Regions from separate parts of the Homo sapiens genome. Here region 2 is linked to region 1. Evidence: fine-mapped expression QTL. A gene starts in region 1. The other region holds a variant in brackets. All regions are shown on one strand. Distances are from middle to middle. Region 1 holds the start of TPRG1-AS1 (TPRG1 antisense RNA 1). Region 2 overlaps LPP (LIM domain containing preferred translocation partner in lipoma).

What was found. PIP is the estimated chance that this variant, and not a neighbour inherited with it, causes the effect. A credible set is the group of variants that fine-mapping cannot tell apart.
Region 2: its variant is the best candidate, but not a certain one, in a credible set for the expression of TPRG1-AS1 in whole blood (INTERVAL, PIP 0.58).

Annotation. Positions count from the first base shown.
Region 1 is chr3:188,944,494-188,949,874 of GRCh38, reverse strand. It overlaps TPRG1-AS1 (TPRG1 antisense RNA 1), which reads left to right and starts at 2,236. Exons shown (of 2, transcript NR_046873.1): 1 at 2,236-2,596.
Region 2 is chr3:188,824,749-188,830,129 of GRCh38, reverse strand. All of the region lies in intron 9 of LPP (LIM domain containing preferred translocation partner in lipoma), which reads right to left. Among named protein-coding and RNA genes, the nearest start is that of TPRG1-AS1, 120 kb to the left of the region's middle. The variant C/T (reference allele first, on the strand shown) is at 3,019.

The DNA of each region.
Region 1 (5,381 bases):
ATGATGTACCTTAGCCATAAGGTACATTTTATATTATACCAAGACAAAGTCATAAACTGAGATGGCAAACCAGGATGTATTTATGATGTATTATGATATACCTTAGCCATCAGTATTGAGATCAACAGCAGAGTTTGTATCCACAGAGAAATCTCTATGGCATAAGAGGGATCTAGCAAGCACAAAAATGGCATAACCCAAGGCTGGCTGGGTGTACTGAGACTGAAAGAGAAAGAAGTGACATCTAAATAGAGGAGATGGCATTGAAGCTGGGTTTTGAGGGATGTGAAAGATTTGAATGTGTGGCAGAGATAGGCCAAATAGAGGCCATCAAATTCTGATGAGTTTAAAAAATTTTTTAAGACATCTCAGCCAAGGCCCAAGTGGCAGGAAAGCAGGAGGCGTCCATGGAGCACCGCGACCAGCCAGAACCCATCTGATGTGGCTGCCATGGAAGGAGTGGTAAGACCAACGAGAGATGAGGCAGGAAGGGTGCTGATGCCAGGCTGGGCTTGGTTCTAATTTCCTAGAGAGCACCAGGAGCGAGCTTTCCTCCTCTTATCAGCATGGCTGCACAAATCTCCATTCTCCTCATCCTGGACTTTTGTTGAGACTGCTCAGACCCACATCTCGTGGGCTGCTGCTAGTCTTACCAGGCTGACTGTCTTCCCTCCAACAAGGAAGGGAGTCTCATTTGAGGAACTGCACAACCTCTTCTGGTTTCTGTACCGGTCACTTTCTCTCTCTAGCCACTGGAGAAGTGGGTTGGAGCATTAGGGGGAAGTGTCTGTTTGGCAACCTCACAGGGCTAGAAAACTTGAAGAGGGTGGATTTTAGGGGCTATCCCCTTGAAAACATTCAAACGTTTGAATCTTTCTGGTGAGACCACTTGTATTCCTATTTTCCAGGAGTACACACAAGGCCAGAGGCACTTTGGACCTCAGGGCTTTCAGAGGGGTGAAAGACAAGGCGGTCAGGGAAAGACTTTCTCATTTGGCCTCACTGTTTTGTGATGTATGTCAGGAAGGTGTTATTGTGGTGAACAATGGAGAAGAAGGGAATTTAAAAGCAGAGAAATGAGTGACTCACCCAAGGTCACATAGCAAGTAACAGAGCTGCAAGCGGCTTGAATGCAAATCCCCTGGACCCAGGCCATGTATTCATGAACCTACCTCAAAGCCTGCTCTCAGAAAGAAGTGGAAGAGGGAGAGGAGGAAGACAAGAAAGAAGAAAGAGGAGGGGGAGGAAAAAGAGGGAGAGAAGCAGAGGAGGGGAGAGACAGCAGAGCCCTTCACTGTAGGTGAAGGACCTGGAACCTTCTCCTTTCACCCCTACTCACCCCCACTCCCTTAACTCCTCCTGGACCCAAGAAAATGTGTCCAAGGCTGTGCGGTAGGGAACGGCTGCTGGGTAACTTCTTTGCTGAGGCGCAAGCATGGCCCTGCGGGGTTGCTGAGCCTTTCAAAGGTCACTTGTAAACTCTGATGTGGCGCAGGGGCTGGCCCGGAGGGGCTGGGGCCTGGGCCAGGACGAGAGGACGGGCCTGCCTTTGGTGCCTAGAAATCAAAGCAGTCAACCTTGGGCTTTTTCTTCCCCCTCACACTGAGGCACTTTTATTGGCGAGATGAAGGGAGGCAGAGCGGGCCTTACAGTCCTCGCTTTGCTTTTGGAGGTTAATGACCCAGTTAGCAGCTCTTGGCTGCGTTTCCGACATTTTGCAGACATCAAGCCCCGCGTCTCTGCCAAGTACATTCTGTTCCCTGGAGCACATCCAGTGCATCTCAGATTACTATGTAATGCGACAAAGAGGGAGAGGTGGCTGGGAGGGGCATCGGGGAGCGGGGCGGGGAGGGGAGAGGGCGGGACGCAGGAGCGTGCGGGGAGGAGAGGAGGATGCCACTCTAAATATAGCTGCCCTCCTGGAATGCATCTTTCAAGGTGCTTATTTACTGCACAAGAGTGATCCCAGAGTGAGGGTACGATTGGGCCCTGTCGTCCAGGAATCCTGGAGCGCCGAGAGCGAAGCCCAGAACCAGGGCGAGGACAGACAGTGGGGGTGGGGAGGAGGCTGCAGGAGGCTCCTGGCTGGGAAGGGCTGGGAAGGTGGAATTCGAAGGGGGCGGGGCTAGGAGGTGGTGGCCCCGCCCACAAGGCCGCCGCCCCGCTTTGCAGCTCGAGCCTGAGCTGCAGCCTGCGCGCTAATTATAGACGTGAATGGAAAGCGGCCGCTTCTGAATGATCGCGTTGCTCGAGCTGCCGTTGGAAGCTTAGAAGCAGGTGCTACCGTGCTAGATACAAAGCGATCTATTTAAAAGCCCTCTGTCACGCACGCACACTTACTGACGAATCCTCTGGCTCTCTCCTACCACCGCCCGGTGGCGGATTCCGGAATTGGTTCAAAAGGCCTTGATCCCGAACACCCAGGACAGAGACAGAGTACTTTTCCTACCTCTTTCGCCTGCATCCTTAGAAAACTCCCGTGGATGAGAAGATCCCCAGGCCTTTACAAGCTGTTGTTTTACAAAAGGAGAAACTGAGGCAGGAAGAGGCGGTGGATGTGCACCAGAGCACGTGGTGCGTCGGTGCAATAGCTGAGGTAAACTTCTGGTCTCCTGACAGCCTCTCCATTTGCCTTACCGGGTTGGAACCTGAAGCAAGTCTCACTTTAACGCCGTTAATTTCCAGGCATGGATCTTTAGCCAATGATGAGCATCCTCCTCCTTTCCTGGTTCAGCGCCTGCTCCCTCCAGTCCCCACCCCCACCCCACTCCCACACGGAAAACTTGCTAATGCTGGCTGATTCTCATTGCTGGGTTTACTAGTTCAGGCCTGGAAACTGGGTAACCTCAATAACTATGACCATTTCAGTATGTGTGAGTCAATCTAATGTGCCCTCCCTCAGCATAATCCTGTCACGAGGAACGACGCAGGGGGCAAAACCTAGACTTTTCTTTCCCATCAGCATCTTGGCTGCACCTAGTGCTCACAGCCAAGTGTGTTAATGCACATGATGGCCTAATCCAGTCCATACGAGCACAGTGAAAATTCTTATGCCCATTTTATGGAATCCCTGTAGAAATGGAGTCTTGGAGGGAGGAAGTGACTTGCTCACAGTCATCTGCTGATGAGTGGTCGACTTGAGAGCCAAAACCAAGTTCTCTACCCTCGATGTGGGCTATGTCCAGTATTCATGCTTTGGCCTGCAAGGGGGAGCAGCAATCCACTTAGTAATAAAGAGGGATAAACCTACGTTCCCTCAGACACCTGGAGTGTCCTGAGGATCTCCACTCTGACCATTGGCCTTTTCTGCCTGTGGGTCTGGGGCCACTCCCACGCTAATCCACAGTATTAAACTGGGCATGGAGAGCTGCTGTCTTCTCTAGAAACCGAAATCTCCAAGTCCAGTAACTACATTCAGCTTCCAATAACAAGGCCAATCCTACTTACCACCTGGACCCATCTATGTCTCCCCACCTTTGCTGACTGCTTTGGACTTAACTCTGCCTGTGTCTCTCTTGGCTATTCCTGTAACCTCAAGATCTCCACCAGGGCAGATGGATAAAGAGGCAGCATCCAGTAACATGCTGAAAAAAGAAGGGAGAGGGAATAGGTGTGGATGATAGAATATTTTAGTTGTTTTTTATTTACCTCTTGGAAGCAAAGACTGTATCTTAGTCTTTGTAAGTCCTCCTTCTTCCCAACATATACAAGGTCCAGCCAGCCCAATGCACCGAGCATAGCAGACAACCAGAAATGTTAAAGAGTCATAAAACTTTCACATGGCTGTGGAAAATTGTATATACCTAGGTTGGTCACAGTCATGTTTCTCTGATAACAAAGATAGGTAGTTTTACAATACTGACAAATTATTTAAGCTTTCTAAGTCTCAGTTTTCTCATCTGTAAAATGGGCATAATTGTACCTCAAAGAAGCAGTACTGGCAGTGCTGAGCCAGGAAAAAAGCAAAATGTTCGCATGTGAATGGTTGTATCTACAATCAGGCTACTTAATTTGGAATCTGAATTCAGCTATGAGTCTAGCACTATGACTAGTGTCAGCACTCAGTAGTTCTTCTCACACAGGGTTGTTCTAGGAATTAAGCTGGATAACATATATGAGCACTCTGTACAGTGATATAAGATTGCTCACATACTTTATTATTAATAAATAAAGTTGCCCAGGGTTACACAGCTAACATACAGTAGAACTGGGATTTAAATCCAGATATGCTCCTGTCTCTGTCCTAGGTCTCCAGTCTCAAGTGCATAATAGTCATCATTACTGAGCACTTATTCAATAATATGGTTTTGCATTAACTGTGTCTGCTTCTATTTGAGATGCAGAAATAATAGACATGCCTTTAGGTTGGAGATAAGTAGGTAAGGGCCTAGGACAGATACACAAGTAACTGTGTAATACCAGTCAGTGGATGATGAGCGCTCTGATTAGCACAATAAACCAAATGCCATGAGCACCAGGGAAGAACAAGCAGATACTCCCCAAGGTGGGGAGAAGGGTTCAGGATGGCTGCAGTGAGGGTAAAGGAGCATGAACAGATCCTGGAAGAATTGGTAGCATTTGGACAAGTGGAGGTAGAGGTGAGGGAAGTTCCTGATAAAGGGATCAGCAAGAGCAAAGACCCAAAAGCAGGAAAAGAAAGGGAGGATTTAGAGAACAGCAAGCTTGCCAGCATTCAGAGAACATAGTGCCGGCGGAGAATGAGCAGGGGCAGAATGAGAAAGCACACTGGGAGCTAAGCAAGGAGACCAGGTGTCCCAGGGAGCCAGGGCAAGCTCAGCAGGGCCAGGTGAGTCTCTCTGATGACATGGAGGGCAGATGTGCTACAGTCTCAGGATGATAATGAGTGGAGAAATTTTGCTCTGGGGCCAGTTATGAGGCAGCAGAAGCTAGGGTAGCTTCATAGCTCCTTTGTAGCACCTCCTAGATGTTGTATTTGTGTATTTACTTGTGTTTCATCTTTTACGTTGGCCTATAAACTCCATGAGAGATGGGAACAGGAGCCTTTCCTTTCTTACTTGTCCCAGGGCTTACCACAGTGACATCCATAGTAGGAGCTCGATAAAGACTTGATGAGCAAGTGAATGCTTCTTTGACCCCAAGGCCAAGAGGACCACCACAGTGATCCAAACGTGGACAAAGGTTTCTCCAAGAAGGTTGTTCCTACCTTTAACTTCAGTAAACAGGTAGCCCAGGGTGGTGTAGAAGAGTTTAAAATTCACTGAGCAGGAATGCAGGACTTCTTTAATGATCCCTCAAATATATGTGCTGCAGTTTTAGAAAATGAAATCAGAAAGAACTGGGGAGAAAAGAAAGAAAAAAAATGAAACCTTGAGCTGAAATAAAACCCTTCCTGTGACTCT
Region 2 (5,381 bases), 120 kb after region 1:
CAGGGACGCCATCAGCCATTATATTTTCACAGAGCTTATTTCATATCTCTTACATTTATACATGATGATTTAGATGATTTATACTTTCAAAAGTTTCTTAATATATCTTTTTTTTTTTTTTAATGAGATGGGGCTTCACTGTGTTGTCCACGCTGGTCTGAAACTCCTGGACTGAAGTGATCCACCTGCCTCAGTCTCTCAAAGTGCTAGGATTATAGATGTGAGCCACCATGCCCAGCCAATGTATCTTTTAATCTTCAAACTATCCCATGTGTCCGGGAGGGCAAGAGTTACTGTTTTACAGAAGTAAAAAAACCCTGAGGCTTCAAGGCACTATTCAGGGTCACATGGTGAGTAAGTAGCCAAGCTGGGGTGAGGACTCAGGTCATTCAACTGCTAAGTGTGAACTTTTTCAAACCCAGTATGTATATTGCCCCAGATAATAGGATTTCAGGTGTCGACGTGGCCAATTTTAGCCACATATACTTGGATTCTTTCATTCCCCCTCTCTGAGCTTCTGATTCCTTATTAGTAACATGCAACTGGTAATATCTGAAGTTTGTACCTCACACAGTGACTCTAAGTATCAAATGAAAAGATGTATGACATTGGGTCTTCAACTGCAAAGTGTTAAACATTTGTATAAGAGTATTATGACTAGGGGTATGGGGCATGCATAGAGGTTTTAGGAGGTGAGTGGGTGACTCCCACTGGACAGAAATGGTTAAGATCGTGTGTAAGTGGAACGAGGCTATGGGAACTGGCCTTGTAGATCATAGTAACTTGATCTGTGAGAAGATTCCCATGAAGGGACAAAGGATAGGCAGGTCATTGAGACAAGGACCATTAGTTCGGTATTCCCGTAAGAGGTGGGAAGGTATGGTGATTAATAGGCGAGGAGAGGCGGTGGAGGGAATATAGCTCTTCTTCTGATGTGATACAAAAATGACAGGAATTAGAGAAGAGTTCCAAAAATGAATGCTAATATAAGATGATTGTGCTTAGAAGAACAGTATCCCATTTGTTTCTCATTCAGCAGCCAAACATAAAATCTCTGATGTGCTGGGCACAATGGGGGGTATAGAGATAAATGAGAGGTGGTCTTTGCCGATAAAAGATCACAATCTAGTAGGAGAAAGAAATACCGACAAAACTATAGATATTTTGAGAAGCATGTAATACTAGAGGCACGAAGTCAGATAATGCTATATACATAACGCATACATATATTCACACTATATATTACATACATAATACCTAAAACACAATATATAATATTGTTTAAATAACAAACGTGACAATCACTATATTTATAGGAGACAGGCCCGAGGTAATGATTGTGTTACATGTGTCATCTCATTGAATCCCTGCAACAACCCAAGGAGATACTAGTTTCCCTAATGACTCTTGATAAACAGACAAGAAAACTGAGGCTCAGGGAGTTCTCTTAACCTGCCCAGGTCACATGACTGGGAAGGATGCAGCTGAGTTTTTTTTTTTTTTTTTTTTTTTTTTGAGACAGAGTTTCGCTCTTGTTGCCAGGCTAGAGTGCAATGGCGTGATCTCTGCTCTCTGAAACCTCCACCTCCCGAGTTCAAGCAATTCTCCTGCCTCAGCCTCCCAAGTAGCTAGGATTACAGGTGCCCGCCACCATGCCCAGCTAATTTTTTTTTTTTTTTGTATTTTTAGTAGAGACTGGGTTTCACCATGTTGGCCAGGGTAGTCTCAAACTCCTGACCTCAGGTGATCCGCCCACCTCGGCCTCCCAAAGTGCTGGGATTACAGGCATGAGCCACTGCATGCAGCTGGGGTTCTAATTCCAGCTCAGGCTGCCTAACTCTGGAACTGAGACTCTTAGCTCCTTCTCCCCCAGCACTCCCTTTTCCCTCCCAGCTTATTTCTCTCCCAGCATGTACTTCCTTCCAATATTCTATATAATTTGCCAATTATTTTGTTTATTGTGTCCCCACTAGAATGGAAACTCCACCAGGGTATTATTTTTTTGTCTGTTTTCTTTACTGCTGACCACTCAAGAACTAAAGTGGTGCCTAGGACACAGTATGTGCTCAATAATATTTGCTGAGCAGATAAATGAATAAATGTTACACTTTATCCTATTGTGAGCCTGTCTCATTAGGGAAAAATGTGGTCAGATGGAAATATTTAGAAGAGGGATGAGATGTACCATACAAAGGTAGACAGAGAGGAAGGTAGGAGAATGGAAAACGTTTTTTATATAAAGAAAAACTGAAAGGCAGGTGGTCGGGAAGCAGATGGGAGGAGCAGGGGTTGCTTGTGGGTCAGTGAAGAGGACGATGAGAGATTTACAGTCCACATTCCAGCAGGCACTTGGCTCAGAACACACAGAAGCTCTGAATTCACTCCCATAATGCTGTTACATGCTGGAGAAAGGAATCTTCCCCCTACCCCTGCCCCCACCATTTGGCTCTGGCCTTCATCTCCTTCTACTGATGGGGCACAAGACTCCCAATATTTTCTGTCTCTCTGTTCCACTCCCTGTTGTGGAAATGTTGCCCAGCTTCAACCCCACTTCTTTAATGCTGCCAATGACTCCGCCAGTTTGAACTCCAGTCATTAAGTCTTTTAACAAGAATGAAACTGAGTAGGACTTTTCTCTTTACCCAGGTTTCTGATTCTGCTCTGTAGAATCACCATATGATGGAAATAGTCATGTTTCCCTCTAAAGTTGCTGTTACTTTGTCTGTACTATTTGTATAGGCAGGGACTTAAACGTATGGGGTCATGTGCTGTGGGGTGGAAAACTGTCTTCTCACAATCATGTGTCTAATATGTGTGTCTCACTATTATTCCAGCCTTATTTCAAAAGAACATGTGGTGTTGGATGTCAGATGAGGTATGAGTCCTAGGTCTATTAATCACTCACTATGTGATCTGGAATGGTCCTATCTAAATCTTAGATTCCCCATTTGAAAATGAAGATGACCTGAGAGGTGGTTGTGGCTAGATTCTTTTGATGTTCATGCCAGCTCTAATAAT[C/T]CATTCCATTAATATGAAAATTGCTCAGATCTCCTATACAATCAGTCTCTTTTTAAAAGCCCCCAGTCAAAGGAACTGTTTGCACCAGCATTCCACATAAGGTTTCTGCCATTTATTCATTTACTTTTTCATTATGTATTCTCTTAACAGTACAGTGTGGGAGGAACTACCCTAGGCCTGATCAGGGAAGAGACAGGAGAAGATAAGATAGGATCTTATCATCATTATGAAGTTTAATATCAAGTAGTAGAGATAAGGCATATTCAACTATGTAAGAACACAAGTCAGAAAGTGATTAAGGATGACATAGAGAGGTGCAGAGATGAGAGTGGGGGGGGTCCAGAGATGACTGTCACTTTCAGCCAGGACAATTAGGGCAATATGTTTTTGAGGCAGAGGTATTTGAGTTGAGTCTTAAAGAACAGGGTACATGCTGGTGGTGCTGGTGTGGGGAGCTTGAGGGAGGGAATTCAAGGCAGAGAAAATAACGTGAGCAAAGACAGTGATGAGAAAACCTACAGCTAATGTTAAGGGAGGATGAAGGGAGTTAGAGGAACCCATGGGGTAAGACCATGGATGGCCTAGAGTAGCAATCTAAGATATCTAGATATCATTTGATAGTTATTCTGCATTGCACATCTCTCCTTGTATACAGTTTTCTGCCTATTAAAATGTCTATCTTAAAATGTACTGACCATGTGGTACTAATAATAGAACTTTCCAGATGAGACCCTCAACTATTTACTGCTGAAAGCTAATGGGGCAAGAATCGACACGAGGATAACAGGATCTCCTATAAGGAAACCTGCAGAAACCGCAGAGCATTTTGTTAGCCCCTCACCCAAAACAAACATATATTGGATCCACTTGCAAATGGTAAAAAACTTCAGTGAGTAGGAAAGCGTAGGCTTCTCTTTCTTTAGAGGTAACCTGTCCACTGGAGAGTCTACAAGTGTTTGCAAGTAGACTGTCCTCTCCAGTTCATCCTCTGCAGCTGCTCCTGAACCAAAATAAGTAACAGGCTATCCGGTATGAGTTGTACTCTACATAGAGTAGCACACATAAAGACCCATGGGAGGGCAGGGTGAGAGGCTGAGGGGGCGGAGGGAGGAAAGAAAGGCTAGGTATGATTATGTCACCAGGTATCCTTGGTAGACAGAAAATATCTTATACATTCTGCTTGAGTGTGGTGGCACACGGAGAAAAAAACGTGTCCTACGTCTGTCAGCATCAACAGCATGGGAACAGGACATCTCTGTGCCTCAGTCAAGATGGGAGAAGAGATTTCCCTTAAGATTGCCCTTAAATCTTAAGTATCTGGCAAAACAAACAAACAAACAAAAAACAAAAACAAACGAACAAAAACCATAAGCTGAAATGTGTGTGTGTATGTCTTTTTCTAGGTACCCATGGTAAAGGTTTGCAAAGGAGGCAGTCGGTTAAGGCTGTGGTGACCCTGGGCTGGGGAGGGGAGTTTTCGAGGTGCCCCTGGTATCTTCAAGAGCAGAGACATACACATTCCATTACTCTCTCACTCTCAGAACCCTGTCGCCTGCCAAACTGAGGATAATAGCAATAGATTCACACTTCAGATACATGTTTCCTGTCTTGGGAGAGCAAGAGCCCCCTGGGTTGAACCCTTCCTTAGCAGTATATACACCCAACTCTCGAGTTGACTAGTTAACCTTAGTGCTTTCAGAACTAGCTAAGCTCAATGCTTTGGGACCTTCACAGTACCTCCTTCTGAACTTCTGTGCTGTGACAGCTTTCTTCACCACCATACTCCAGTGATCCTACACACACACACACACACACACACACACACACACACACACACACACAGAGAGAGAGAGAGAGAGAGAGAAAGAAAGGCTGGGACTACTGCACCTATACAAAGACAAAGGCAGCACAGATGGTCACTATTCTATGACTTTACCATAATGACATTTAAAAACAATCATTGATGATATTCATAATCAGTCCTAACTTTGGGAAATGATTTTATAGTTTAAAAAGAACTTTCAAACTCAGACATTGCACATAGAATGTGTTGGGATAACCAAAACATAAGCAGAAAGGGCAAATGTTTTCTAGCCATTATGCAGCTGCTCTTGGTCACGTAAGATGAATTTCTGCTAATCCATAAAAGCAGCATGATTCTCAGATGTCCCTTCATTCGTCATTCCCAGCACCAATATCCCACCCTACTTGAGGATTCTAAAGCTTGGTATGTCATCATCACCTTGGTCTTTGATGGCTAAATTTATGAAGGCGGCTGTGAGATTTCACTTCGGAACTCAGATGAAGCCAGATAAATGTGCCAAAGATGACACTGGACATATGGTACTTAACGATTCTGACGG